4 linked regions of the Homo sapiens genome follow. The protein of the gene in region 2 interacts with the protein of the main gene of each other region in a pairwise test. Each region holds a gene or a part of one and is shown on either strand. Other genes may lie near its edges.

What was found. The genes of interacting proteins can lie anywhere in the genome.
Region 1: the proteins of NEK6 (region 2) and CBY2 interact in binary tests that used the Homo sapiens proteins (3 or more experiments, as listed by UniProt).
Region 3: the proteins of NEK6 (region 2) and SMUG1 interact in binary tests that used the Homo sapiens proteins (3 or more experiments, as listed by UniProt).
Region 4: the proteins of NEK6 (region 2) and ZNF24 interact in binary tests that used the Homo sapiens proteins (3 or more experiments, as listed by UniProt).

The regions. Positions count from the first base shown.
Region 1 is NC_000013.11:45,705,320-45,708,819, reverse strand, and holds part of CBY2 (protein chibby homolog 2), read right to left. Parts: intron 1-3,500.
Region 2 is NC_000009.12:124,327,449-124,330,948, reverse strand, and holds part of NEK6 (serine/threonine-protein kinase Nek6), read right to left. Parts: intron 1-3,500. UniProt on the Homo sapiens protein: Protein kinase which plays an important role in mitotic cell cycle progression. Required for chromosome segregation at metaphase-anaphase transition, robust mitotic spindle formation and cytokinesis.
Region 3 is NC_000012.12:54,179,866-54,182,925, reverse strand, and holds the end of SMUG1 (single-strand selective monofunctional uracil DNA glycosylase), read left to right. Parts: intron 1-302; coding exon 303-830; 3' UTR 831-1,278; coding exon of another isoform or gene 1,279-1,407; 3' UTR 1,408-2,560; downstream 2,561-3,060.
Region 4 is NC_000018.10:35,331,727-35,334,420, forward strand, and holds the end of ZNF24 (zinc finger protein 24), read right to left. Parts: 3' UTR 501-2,694; downstream 1-500. UniProt on the Homo sapiens protein: Transcription factor required for myelination of differentiated oligodendrocytes. Required for the conversion of oligodendrocytes from the premyelinating to the myelinating state.

The DNA.
Region 1 (3,500 bases), on a different chromosome or scaffold from region 2:
GTGGTCAAGTGCAGTGTTTCCTCATGGCTTAATTTCTTAGAACATTTAAAAATTTTTCAGTAGTCATATACTTATTTTAATGAGTAATGGGAAAACATACCTATATTAAATATACAGGCATTTTTAGACATGACAAGGATCATGATTGAACTTCAGGAAAACATTGATCCAGAACAAACTTGTTTTTTCCTGTAGCATTTCTCTGATTCTGATCAGAGCTAGCTGGATTTAATCCTTAAAGGAAAGCTCTTGGCCTTGTGAAAATTCTTCACCCTAGTCATGTACCCACTCAGGATGTTATTGCACCAATTTTTCCCCTACATTAGTGTCAGTGAATCAACTAACATTAATTTGGCACGTACTGTGTTCCAAGCTCACAGACCCTGCCCTCAGGGAATTTCCAGTTGATTTGAAGAATCAGTGAATAGCACCAATTACTTCTTGATGCAAATGAGAGAAGTCAAAATGCAGGAAGCATTAACGCAGGCAGCAAGGTGTGGGGAATAGGGGACTAGAAATGATAACATCTCCAGAGAATTCTGGCTCTGCACTATATGAGTGCATGACCTTTACAAAGTCACTTCATTTCTGTGCCTTAGTTCCTAGAAAATGTGGATGTTGACATGAATGAATCAGGGCCAACCCATATATTTTTGAAATGCCCAACTCTAAAAGGCGCTATTCACTGTTACTGCAGGGCACAACCTGTACAACCCTCTATAACGACCTCACCAACATCTGCCCTACTTCTCTCAGAGGGTTTGTTGTTCAGAAATAAAAGGAGACTCGGAACATTTTCTTTGTTTATAAAGAGCTGCAGACATACAAGAAGGGCTTTTAGAAGAGACATTGCTTAGCATTTCTTTAGAGAAAGATTATATAGAACAAGAAAAAAAATAACACTGAGTGACTATAATGTGTCAGGTTATATGCTAATTGATTTCTGTATTCATATGTAATATCTTACCCAAAGAACTGGCATGATTCTGCATAAGATTACATAGCTGATAAAGGAGTGGAACCAGGGTTTAAAATGAGGATATTTGACTCCAAACTCCATGTTTATTCTAGCACTTCACAATGCTCAGACATTTTATTTTGCATGTGCTAATATCATTACTTTGCAATGGTTCTCTTACAACCAGGCCTGTCCTCTCCCCATATGAGTAAGTTGCAATTATCTAAGCACAGTGACCTATCCCTTGTTTTTGTGACATCCCAAGTCTTGGGAATTAGAAAGCAAATTTCACATGTGGTGGAGGCTTAATGAGTCCTTGGCAATAACTGAATCAACCAAAATACACTGAAAGATTGGGAGGAAATACTAGGTTGAACCATAAGAAACTGTTAACATTTTACCATTTTTGGCCTACAAAAATGGCCATTTCTTTTGCCTTAATATAGTTAGTGTATTTGATAAGCTATATCCTCATTTCCATTCATATTTTAAGACTTTAAAATAGTCCCAGGGCAAAGCTGTTATGGTATGATGTAAAATCTATAAGCATGGAGTTTTCCTCACGTGAATTCCACAAACCCCTAGGTTCATCCATGTACTCCCTTAGAGGAAGCTCCCACCACCCCCTGCACACAAGCACGCTAGTGGTCCCTTTCATCATCTTGAATATATAATCCAACGAGGGTAAACGCCCTAAATTTCCAGTAACTTTGGGCTCAAAAGTCCTTCCTTTGACTGCTCTTGAGAAAGTCATTTTGCCTCTCAGAATGTCACCTCTAAAATAAGCCTAAACATGGCTGCTCTGCCTACTTCCTGGGGTTGCCAGAGGACAAGAAAGTGGTAGCCAAGCTGTCATAAAGACTAAACAGATGGTCAGTTCTACTGGTAAGGTTTAAACATACCCAGCCTAAAGCGCTATGCAACGTGGAGTATATTTCTTTACAAAAGGGCTACCCAAAAACTAAGCATCTGAGCTCAGCGAACATATGCAGTTCCAGGATTCCAGACCTCCTTGGCCTATGTTAGAAGCCAGTTCCTTCTCAGTAGGACTCCTCGACCAGTGGTATCACTGGATTGGTTTCATGGGCCAAGCTAACCTGCCCTGATATCCTTTAGCCCTTGACAAGAGGTCTATGCCAATACAAAGCCCCAAGAACACCCCAGTAATGTTCTCCTAAGCCTGGGAGGTACAGCCTGTGTAGCATGGTGCAACTGACCATGAAAATAAAAGATTGTCTCTTTTCTGGTCTCTAGGAAATGCCCTCACATAGAGATCCAGTAGGTAGGAAAGAAAAAGGTTGGCTTCTTCATGGAGGAATGAGATATGAAGCTGATGCAGAAGGGGAATAAGTTGGTCATGGGCTCATCATGCCTTCCTGTCGGGTGCTAGAAAGGTGCCAAGAGACTCTGTCCTCAGGGGAAATGTGCTCATAGCTGTAACCCAATGATGCATTAGTGACAGGGATCCAGGAAGGGCCATGGGCACGAACATCGCCCTCACAGAAGCCTGAAGTCCCATCTGTGGATTGGAATTCTTCCTTAGCATTAGGTCTGGTGCCCTCCTTGGTAAATATAAGTGGTCCTGGAAGGAAAATGCCTGAAATCTGCCAACAACTGTGTCTTTGTCAGATCACCAACCTGGTGGCAAGTGAAGAACATGGGGGAAGGGGACAATTGAAAGAAGGGAGGCAAAATGCAAAGGCCAAAGGGCAAAAGGAAAAGGGGAAGTGAAAGGACCAAAATCTCTTACTAGTGCTACAGGACTTGTAGCAACAGGTCTCTCTGGGTGGGACCTTCTGGGATAGAATTACTGGGGGTGTGGTTTCCCATCCAAAGAGTTTGGGGATGGGATTGAACAGCAACTAGCCAGGCTTAGCTGACACACACTGATGTCTCTCCACCCCTGGAAAAATGTGGCTACCACAGCCCAGAAGAGATGTCCAAACACTGCTGATAGAGTCCAAGCCTGCTGACCAAGTTTCTTAAACACCAACTTTGCCAACATTACTGAGGGTTACTATCAGAGAACATTCAGCCATCTGAGGTACTATTAAAGCATGTGAAGTTGAGAGGACCCAGGATTCTGGAAGGAAAAGCCAAATATGATACTGATTTTCATATGAGATGACAAGGCTGAGTCTCATTATCATTATTTTAAATTAATTCAGCTCCCTGGTACCATGGCAAAGTCAATGGTGGTTTTAATAAATACTAACAGGTAAAAGGATAATTCACAAGGTAAATGTGATTGATGTTGACAGAATTACAACGTTAACAGCAAAGAGGATAAAGAAGATGTCATATGTAGTATGTTTGCATACTGTTTAACAGAGACTCTCCTGAAATCTTCCTGGGAATTCAAATTGGCGGGTGCTGTCAGCAGGAATTCACTGCTTCTGAGTAACAAGCACAAACAAAGGGGAAGGAGAAAAGGCAACTGGGAAGGATGAAGGAGGCACCGGAGGGTGCTATTGGAGCTCAGTCTGACCTGGTGTAGCTCTTTCATTAATGATCTAGGAGTAAACAATGCCTTAATGAAATT
Region 2 (3,500 bases):
TTTCTCCGTCTTTAACTCATCTTTTCAGTGAGTTCAGTGGCTACAGAGTAACGAAGTGAGGGCGGCTCTGGGAGGGGTGGAGCCACCCTGGGCTCCCTGGGGCTCTGTATAGAATCACAGAGCCCCACGCCTGCCCTGCCTGCCCACAGTGGGCCCCAAGAGGCAGTCCCACCTGTCCCCTCACCATGCCACCTGGCATGGACTGTGTCTGTCCCCTCGAAAGCTGCATAATCGCATATCCCCAGCACACAGCCCAGGGCCAGGCAGTTTGCTCAAGGAAGAAGAAGGAAGGGGTTTGCGCCTCAGCGCCAGGCTAAGCCCTGGGAGACCCAGCAGGGCCGTGACCTCGAGTACCTGATGGGGTCACCCCCAACTAGACTTGCTCTCCCAGCCCCCAAGAGGCAGCACGGGCCCTGCATGGGCCTGGGTGTGACCAGCCGCCCTTCCTGCCCTGTCACCCGTGGCTGCCTGTCACCGAGACTGTCCTGTCACTACAGCCGAGGAGCCAGGCCTGCCCGCCCGCTCTCCCAGCCCCGTGATTTGTCTTGCAGCTGCTGCCGTTGCTCGGAGCGAGACACTTGCTTGTAGCTTGTGAGCTGTGTATAGGCAAATCTTTCATTTTTCCTGCATTACGCCGGCGTGTACTGTCACTTAATTTTTATGTATGCAATCCTTCCTGACAAATATGATCTGCTGCCTGGTAATTCGTCTGACGCTCATTCTGTTCCGCGCTCTAATTACGGCTCCTATTTCTGACACCGAGGCAGCCACTCTGCCACCGCTGGGTACCGCACCTGTCAGCCCGACCATGGCACTGACTAATGCCCTTTCATGCCAGCCTCGTGTTAGCAAATACAGAGGCGGGGAGGGGGCCCAGGGAGGGGGGAAGTGGGAGGAGACCAGATTTGCATAAGCCCAGCTCTTGGGTCAGCAGCCTTAGGAGATGAGGTGGTTGCTGGGGCAACGTGGCTGCCACCACAGCATCCCCACATAGTAGGTGCACATGAGATGCGGCAGATGCATAATTCATCCCCACGCACAGGGCGTGAAGTGTCCCTGGCCCCTGTGCCCCTCCTGAGTCACGATGCAATGGTAATTAGTTCAATCTCTTGCCCAACCAAACGTGTGTGCAAGACTTAGCTGTTTGCAGAACCTCTTGGTGGAAGGGGTCTTTCCCCTGGGTCTTGGAGATACAGGTCCTGGGCTTTAGCTTGGCACTGTCACCATTCTAGAACCTGGTGGGTGCAGGCCCTTGGTTCTGGGAGCTTGTCCTGCTGGCAGGGACTTGCTCAGCTCCGTGCAGGCCTCAGCTCATTGGGCATCTCTCCTGGATGCCGGGCACAGAGCCCGGAGTGGGGACAGGCCCCAGGAGGGCTCCTTCCACCCATCATGTGGCCTGGTCGGCGCTCGGAGGGCTTGGGAAGAGCCCGGCTTATGAGGGCGGCCTTCTCCCAAGTTCCAATTCCTTCTCATTAATATAATAAGTGCACCAGTCCAAGTCAATAAAATCATACTGTCGGATGAGACGCATCTCTGCCCATTCCTAATGATGCGATCCTAACCCTCTCTGACGGAGCGCCACAGTCTTTTTTCTGCAGTGGGACAGAGAAAGGCTCGGTGCTGACTGACGGGGGACAGGACGCAGCGGTTCTAACTCTTCTCTTTGACAGCTTCCCTTGAATTTCCTGGTCTTTTCGAAGCCCTTCAACCACACAGGTAAACAGTCCCAAACTGACCGAAACACTTGGTTTTTCACAAGGGAAGTAAATGTTTGAGGGGACAAGGAAAGACGAGGCTTCCTTCCAGCAACGGAGAGTCAGTGGCCCGGGTCCCCAAAGGGGGACTCCAACGGTATCTGCCGAGGCCCCCGGCCCTCGTTTCCTGGAAGCAGCGTGGGTTCTGAAGGAGAGGCCTGCTGCCATGTGACCTCGGAAAAATCTCTCGAGCGCCTGGATTTCTGATTCTTCCTCTGCTAAAGGGAAGGATGGCTGGATGCTTGGGGCTGTCAAGGGCATGAGTGGAACGTCCCATACTCCCTGGGGGGTGGGTCCCTACACATCTTCCCTTTGGAGCTAAAGGAAGAGCTCCTGAGGCCTGGCCAGGTGGGGACAAGAGTTTCAAAACAACCCCCTCCCCGCCAGCCCCGCTGGCTCCATCAGCTGCTGGGAGTCGCTGGTCTCTAGGCTCGTACATTTCTCCTAAGTGTGTGTGACGCGCTGAGAGTCTCTCTGGAACCTGTATGAACAGTGACACTTTCCACAAGACACTGTGACTTCCAGAAAGTGCCTCCGCCCAGACAATGCTGCTGTCTCTCACACCCCGCTTGCCGCAGGCACTCGGGGGTCTGGGGATAGGAGACGTCCTGGCTTGAGCCATGGAGTGGGGTGGAAATGAGCTGGAATGGGGCGGTGTTCAAGGAGGCGGCGGGCAGCTCCTGGGGCCCAGCCCCCTCCTGGGGAAGCGGATGCTGGTGGGCACAGCACACAGGGGGTGGGCCTGGGGGCACCTTCCACTGCAAACACACCTCAAAGAGCCAGGAAATAGCCCTGAGAAAGCAGGGGCCCTCGCCCACTCCATGGGCCTCTGGGAAATGTTCCCACAGATGGGCGTGGTGAAACCCAGACAGCCTTGTAGTAACGCACAGGAGACCCTGCTCCTGTGTTCCACTGGTGGGGAAGCGGGGGCTTTCTTGGTTCCTTTGTTCTCACTAAATGAAAAATCCCCCATCGTACAGCATTCCAAGTTTCACATTTGGTTACATACCCAGTGTGTGGATACTGAAGCTTGCCATTGCTTCACCTGTCCCCAAAACACATCTGACCAAGTCTCTTCCGGAGTCCAGCCCTTCAGCACCCCCCGACCCATAGGGTGGTGTCCAGCCCACTGAGCTCAGAGTTCAAGGCCCTGCCCGCTTTTCATGCCACTCCTGCAAGGACCCTGGTCTGTGGCAAAGCCAAGCTCAGCCGCACACCGAGGCTCACCCACTGTTTCCTGGAACGCTGCTCCCTCCCCTTCCCTGTCCCAACAGCATCTGGTCTCCCTTTATGGTCCAGCTACAATGTCACCTCCTCCCTGGCAGGCACCTGGTCCCCACAGCCTCAAAACCGCCAGTTTAAAAGCCAGAAACTAGGAACAGTGCAAATGTCCACCCCCTAGGAGGGATGGACCAAGGGTGCTGCCCGTGAACGGGACACTCACAGCAGTGGGAAGATGACCGCCCTGTGCCACAGACACGCCCCCTGCTCCAAGCAACCGGCTCAGTCAGCTTCTCCCGCAAGGGCTGGGAGGTGATCAGGGGGTGTGGGAAGCCCCAGCTGGGCTCCTCTGGCCACAGCTGATTCCCTTCTGGGTCACTATTCTGAACAGATGAGAAAACCCTGGGGCTTAAAAAAGGCATCTTCCTGCACTAACTGACCAAACACACGTGGGGAGAATGTTTGCGTCTCCCTGCATGGTCACCAGGACCGCTGGGGGCTGCTGGGGCACAGACAGGTCCCCCT
Region 3 (3,060 bases), on a different chromosome or scaffold from region 2:
CTAACCATCAAACCCTGTGTAGGGCTAGATATCTCAATGTAGTCCCTGTACTTAGTCCCAAAGGCTAGTTGGGCTAGAGGGAAACAAATTCTTCTGGACCACGGTTCACAATGAAGAACTGGAAAAAGACAGACAGGCTCAAACCATAGGGCCAAGAATCCTTGTCTCAGGCCTTTGGGTGAAGGTAGGGGTAGGGGGTGCAGGCTGGATCCTCATGTAAGGTATAAAGAAGTCAGTTGGTCCAGAGCCCGGGCCTCAGGTCTCCAGTTTGAAGCCTTTCATGTCTCTCTCCTTCCTCACAGGTGCCCTTTGGGGAAGTAAGCATGGTCCGGGACTGGTTGGGCATTGTGGGGCCTGTGCTGACCCCTCCCCAAGAGCATCCTAAACGACCAGTGCTGGGACTGGAGTGCCCACAGTCAGAAGTGAGTGGTGCCCGATTCTGGGGCTTTTTCCGGAACCTCTGTGGACAGCCTGAGGTCTTCTTCCATCACTGTTTTGTCCACAATCTATGCCCTCTGCTTTTCCTGGCTCCCAGCGGGCGCAACCTTACTCCTGCTGAGCTGCCTGCCAAGCAGCGAGAACAGCTTCTTGGGATCTGTGATGCAGCCCTCTGCCGGCAGGTGCAGCTGCTGGGGGTGCGGCTGGTGGTGGGAGTTGGGCGACTGGCAGAGCAGCGGGCACGACGGGCTCTGGCAGGCCTGATGCCAGAGGTCCAGGTGGAAGGGCTCCTGCATCCCTCTCCCCGTAACCCACAGGCCAACAAGGGCTGGGAGGCAGTGGCCAAGGAAAGATTGAATGAGCTGGGGCTGCTGCCACTGCTGTTGAAATGAGTGCCCTTGGGGCCTTGCATGGGACACATTCAAGACCTCGAAGTCATTCTTGGCCAAGCAGATGACAACACATCTCCTGGACTGGAGCAAAAGGTCCTTCTGTGCACCCTGGTCGCTGGGAAACGTATTCTTTGATCTGTTGAACTGTCTTCCAACCTGCCATGGCAGTTTTGACACTACTCCTGTTTGCCCTCCTGATTCCTGCTTTCTTTACCTTTTAACATTGCCCCTTTCAGGGGACCCCACTTTGTAGGGAATCTGCAGAAGGTGTGCTTTTGCACTTGCAGACTGCTCTACCTCAGTGTTTCCTTGGGAGACTTTATTCAGCTGAGAGTGCCCTAGACAGTAACTTCTAAGGTCACGTTTACTATTTCAGAGGAAATATCTTGCCAGGATACCTACCCATCCTTATAGAACAGTTACCTTTAGCTGACCCCTTTCCTCACAGGGACCAAGACAAAGCATGGGACATGAAATTAAGAGTGAACTTCTTATGGGAGGCTGCAGCTGGATCAGAGGAAAAATCCAGTGTGACAGAGTGCAAGTCAGAAGACCTGGCTTTTCATCCCAGCTTTGAAACTTGGAACTTTTTGATTGACAAATTAATAAACCTCTCTATGCCTCAGGCTCCTCATCTGTAAAACAGGGATGCCTACCTTATGGGGTTGGTGTGAGGATTAACTGAGATCACACTTGAAAGTGCCTTGCATGGGCTTGGCATGTGGGTGCTCATTACATAGTCTTCTTGTTTTCTTGCCTCTGGGTTGAGGATTCACAGCACTGCACTACAAGGGTAGCCCCTCTCCATTCTGGATACCTTGCTAGGAGAGAGTCTGGGCTTCCACCTGCGGCCAGGGTGAAGGGAAAATTCTTGCCATGTCAGAGATGGATCAATGACTATGAAAAAACTAGCCTGTGATTTTTTTTCACTCTAAGCATTAAGAGCTCCTAAAGCCTTTTGTCTTGTTACTTTTTTCCCCCTCTTGCATGCTAGAGGTGGAAGGTAGTCATTTAGATTTCCCCCCTCTTCCCTCTTCATTGTTGGCCAGGGGTTCTCTTGGGCAGCTGGGGGAAGGATGTAGTAGATCTCTCTTTTTTTTTTTTTTTTGAGATGGAGTCTCATGCTGTTGCCCAGGCTGGAGTGCAGTGGCATGGTCTCAGTTCACTGCAACATCTGCTTTCCCGGTTCAAGTGATTCTCCTGCCTCAGCCTCCTGTATAGCTGGAATTACAGGCATGTGCCACCACGCCTGGCTAATTTTTGTATTTTTATTAAAGACAGTGTTTCACCATGTTGGCCAGGCTGGTCTCAAACTCCTGACTTCAAGTAATCCACCTGTCTTGGCCTCCCAAAGTGCTGCTGCCTGGCTGGATGTAGCAGATCTCCAATTGCCTTACCAAACCTGCAGGGTCTCTGTTAAGTGTCTGTTAGGGGTCTTATATGATACTCTGGACACCGTGAGAAACAGGTGATGGGGCAGATGGGAACCTGGTATCCAACTCATTTTTTATGTCTGCTGAATGGTTGACTGGGTGCCCCTTTGGTAAGGGCTGGGAAAGTGAACCAAGTTGGGAGCAGAGCAGGTCTTGAGACCACCTTAATGAGGAACACATGGTCTACTTCCTATCTCCTGGGACACAGGTCATTTCCAGCTTCCAGAATTAGTAAGATTTTTCATATAAATCCTCCCCTACTTCATTGTATAATAAAGAATTTGGCCTTTGTCTTCAGTTCCTGAGAAGGAGACTCTAAATCCTTGGAATTTCCCAAGTAATAGGAGTATCTTTGTTTTTCGTGGCAGGTCCCTGAAACTACACCTGAATTTATGTTGAGATTTGACCTTAGGCTGCACCTAATTTTATATTGAATTTGATCTCAGACCACACCTGAGTTTGCTGTAAGATTTGACTGAGGATGGAGGCTGACCATGCCAGAATGACCAACCATATAGTTACAGGGCTGGGACTTTGAGCTGGATGATACCAGCTTGATCCCCAGGGAGGGGAGAGGGGCTAGAGATTGAGTTCAGCCACATGCCGATGATTTTAACCAATTATATCTATGGTAAAACTCTAGATATAAAAACTTCTGACACAGGTTTTGGTCAGCTTCCTGGCTGGTGAACACATGGATGTGCTGAGGGATGTGCATTGGTATCCTGTTTCTATGAGCAGAGGGCACACATCTGTGCCTGGGACACTCCTGGACCCTACCATATATTTGTCTTCAT
Region 4 (2,694 bases), on a different chromosome or scaffold from region 2:
CAATTTTGAAAGACATCTCTTTGAAAACTCCATCTTAGGAGATGTGATTAATAGAGGTGCCAGGTGACATAGAGCGCTGCTACATTTCTGGCCATAGAAAAGAGCCCACAGGGTGAGGCTGCTCAGGTCTGTGTGTGCTCATTCACGTCTTGAGTCCACAGGCCTGAGAATGAAACAAAGAGCCAGAGAACCATGGAGTTGGGATGGAGGTCATTGGAAGGGCTCCAAGGGTTGTATACAGGGAATGCTTGAGGGGAATCCCCCAAGAACAATGGTAGGAGATGGGTACAGCTCTCAGCAGTGTAACCCTTAAAGTCCCAGGTTAATGAGTCTAGAGGAAGAATAAGAAGAGAACTGCCAAAGAGGCAATTGTGTAAAAAGCTGTTCATCCACATTCCCAACATCAATGTTGTTACTATTGGAATGTAAAGTGTATGTGTGTGGGGTGTGTGTTATAGGGAGAATGGAGTAACAAATGGCAAAAGTTGACACAGGCCAAATCATGGAAGGCCATGCTAATTTTATTAACTTATATAGTGCATAAAGTCTAGAATTTAAAATTACAAAGGTTTTCTACAAATCAATAAGAAAATACAAATAACCTATATTAATCAGAACAGAAACTCAATTCAATTATCTTAAACAAGAAAGGGACTTTATTGGCTCACAAAACTTTAAAGTCCGGAGGTAGGGCAGGCTTTAGGCACAGCTGGATCTAGGGCCTCCAGAAAAATGACATCAGAACTTAGTTCTCTTTCCATTTCTGCTAGCATCCGAGTTTCTCCTCAGACAGACTCTCTCCACATGGCACAAATTCAGGCTTACATGGTCCTTGGTTCCTGGGATCTCCATAAAGCCTTCTTTCCAGTAGTTCCAGCAGAAGTTCTGTTAAGGGCTTTCCTTAGCCTGGCTTAAGTTATATACCCATTCTTTTATCACTGTGGCTAGGAAGCTGTGGGACTCAGGAGGCCAGGCCTGGTCACATGCTCACCTAAGCCACAGGGAATAGGTTCCCCACAAATAAATAAAGGTTGTGTTACCAGAAGATGGGGAAGGAGATGCTGAACAAATAAAAACAATATATCCACACATAACCCAATAGAAAGCAGGTAAGGGATACAAACAATCCACAGTAAACTATAAATGGCCAATAAACATGAAAATAACCCCAATCTCACCATTTTTTTTTATAATCAGGGAAATGCAAAATAAGAAAAGGTTCTTTTTCGCCCAACAGATAAAAACTATCAAGTGTAGGTATGGTTATATGGGGAAATGAACATTCTCCATACACTTGGTGAAAATACAGTTATGAAGGCCTTTGGGAAGACTGAAGGTGGACAGAGAACAAACCCTTTGATCCAAAAATCCACCTTACTGGACTCCAGACTAAAGAAATATTCACACACATGCACAAAGACATCTGAATAGGATGTTTACTTTGGCAATGTAATAGCGAGAGGAAAAAAATTAAGGGAATAAATAATGGCATTTTCATAGTATTTAATCATATTCAACCATTAAAGAAATTTAAAGACCTGTTATCTTTTTTTGAGACCAAAATTTTAAAAAGCTACAGAATATGAGATCCTATTTATGTAAAAAGTGTTTTTATGTGTATGTATATTCGTACGGAAAGGTGACTAGAGGATGTATGTTAAACTGTGGTAAGTGGAATGTGATTGGTAGCATTGGAGAAAAGGGTCTCTCTATTCAAAGAACTGTGTTTTTTATACAATGAGAAGGTAGTCATTAGACTTTCATAATTAAAAAAAGGAAAATGGGCAAAAGCAATTCATAATAGGAAATGCAAATGGCCAAGAAACATGAAAAGATGTTCCTCCTCATTAATATTCAAAGAAAAGAAAGAAATTTTGCCTACCAGATTGGCAAAAATTTTTAAGGATTCAGGGTTGGCAGACTATAGGCAAACAGGCATTCTTACTAATGATGGAGTTGTAAATTGGTGAAATCTTTTTGGTAGTAGTTTTCAAAACTGCAAATGTGAAACCTGATCCAATAAATTTCTAGTTATTCATCCTACAGAAATACCCACACAAGTAGCAAAATACATGTACAGGAATGTTAATTACACTTCTATCTATAATGAACCTAATTATCAATCCATAGGGGATTAAATAAATTACAGAATATTCATGCAATGGAATAGTATATAGTTATGAAAAAAGAACATCTTCAATGTGGGGGGAGAGGAGGCAAGTCTCAGTGTAGTGCATGTGAAATGGGGTTATGTCCTACTTTATACGGTAGCTGAGGATTAAGAGTTAATCCATGATAAAGCACTTCAAATAGTGCCTGTCACAGCAACCACAGGTGTCAGCTGTTAACACATTATTGATTAAATAAGTATATGCCTAAATCTGGAAGAACAAACGAAATTATCATGACTTCTCGGTAACACTGTGAAAGGAAATATCCTTTTTCATTTTACATTTCTGCACTGTAAAAAATTCAAACCAGCAATGTTTAATAGCTTTCACATTTGTTAACCATAAACACAAATTTATCAAGGTTTAATAGCCACCACCCATGGCATGGTGAATATGTCCCTGGAGTCTACAGAACCAGATTTGAATTTTATCTCTAGGCCACATGCAAGTCACATGATCTCTGAATCTTGCTTTCCTAGTCCACAAATCTAAGTGAGATAGGTACGGTGTCTAAGCCAATGCC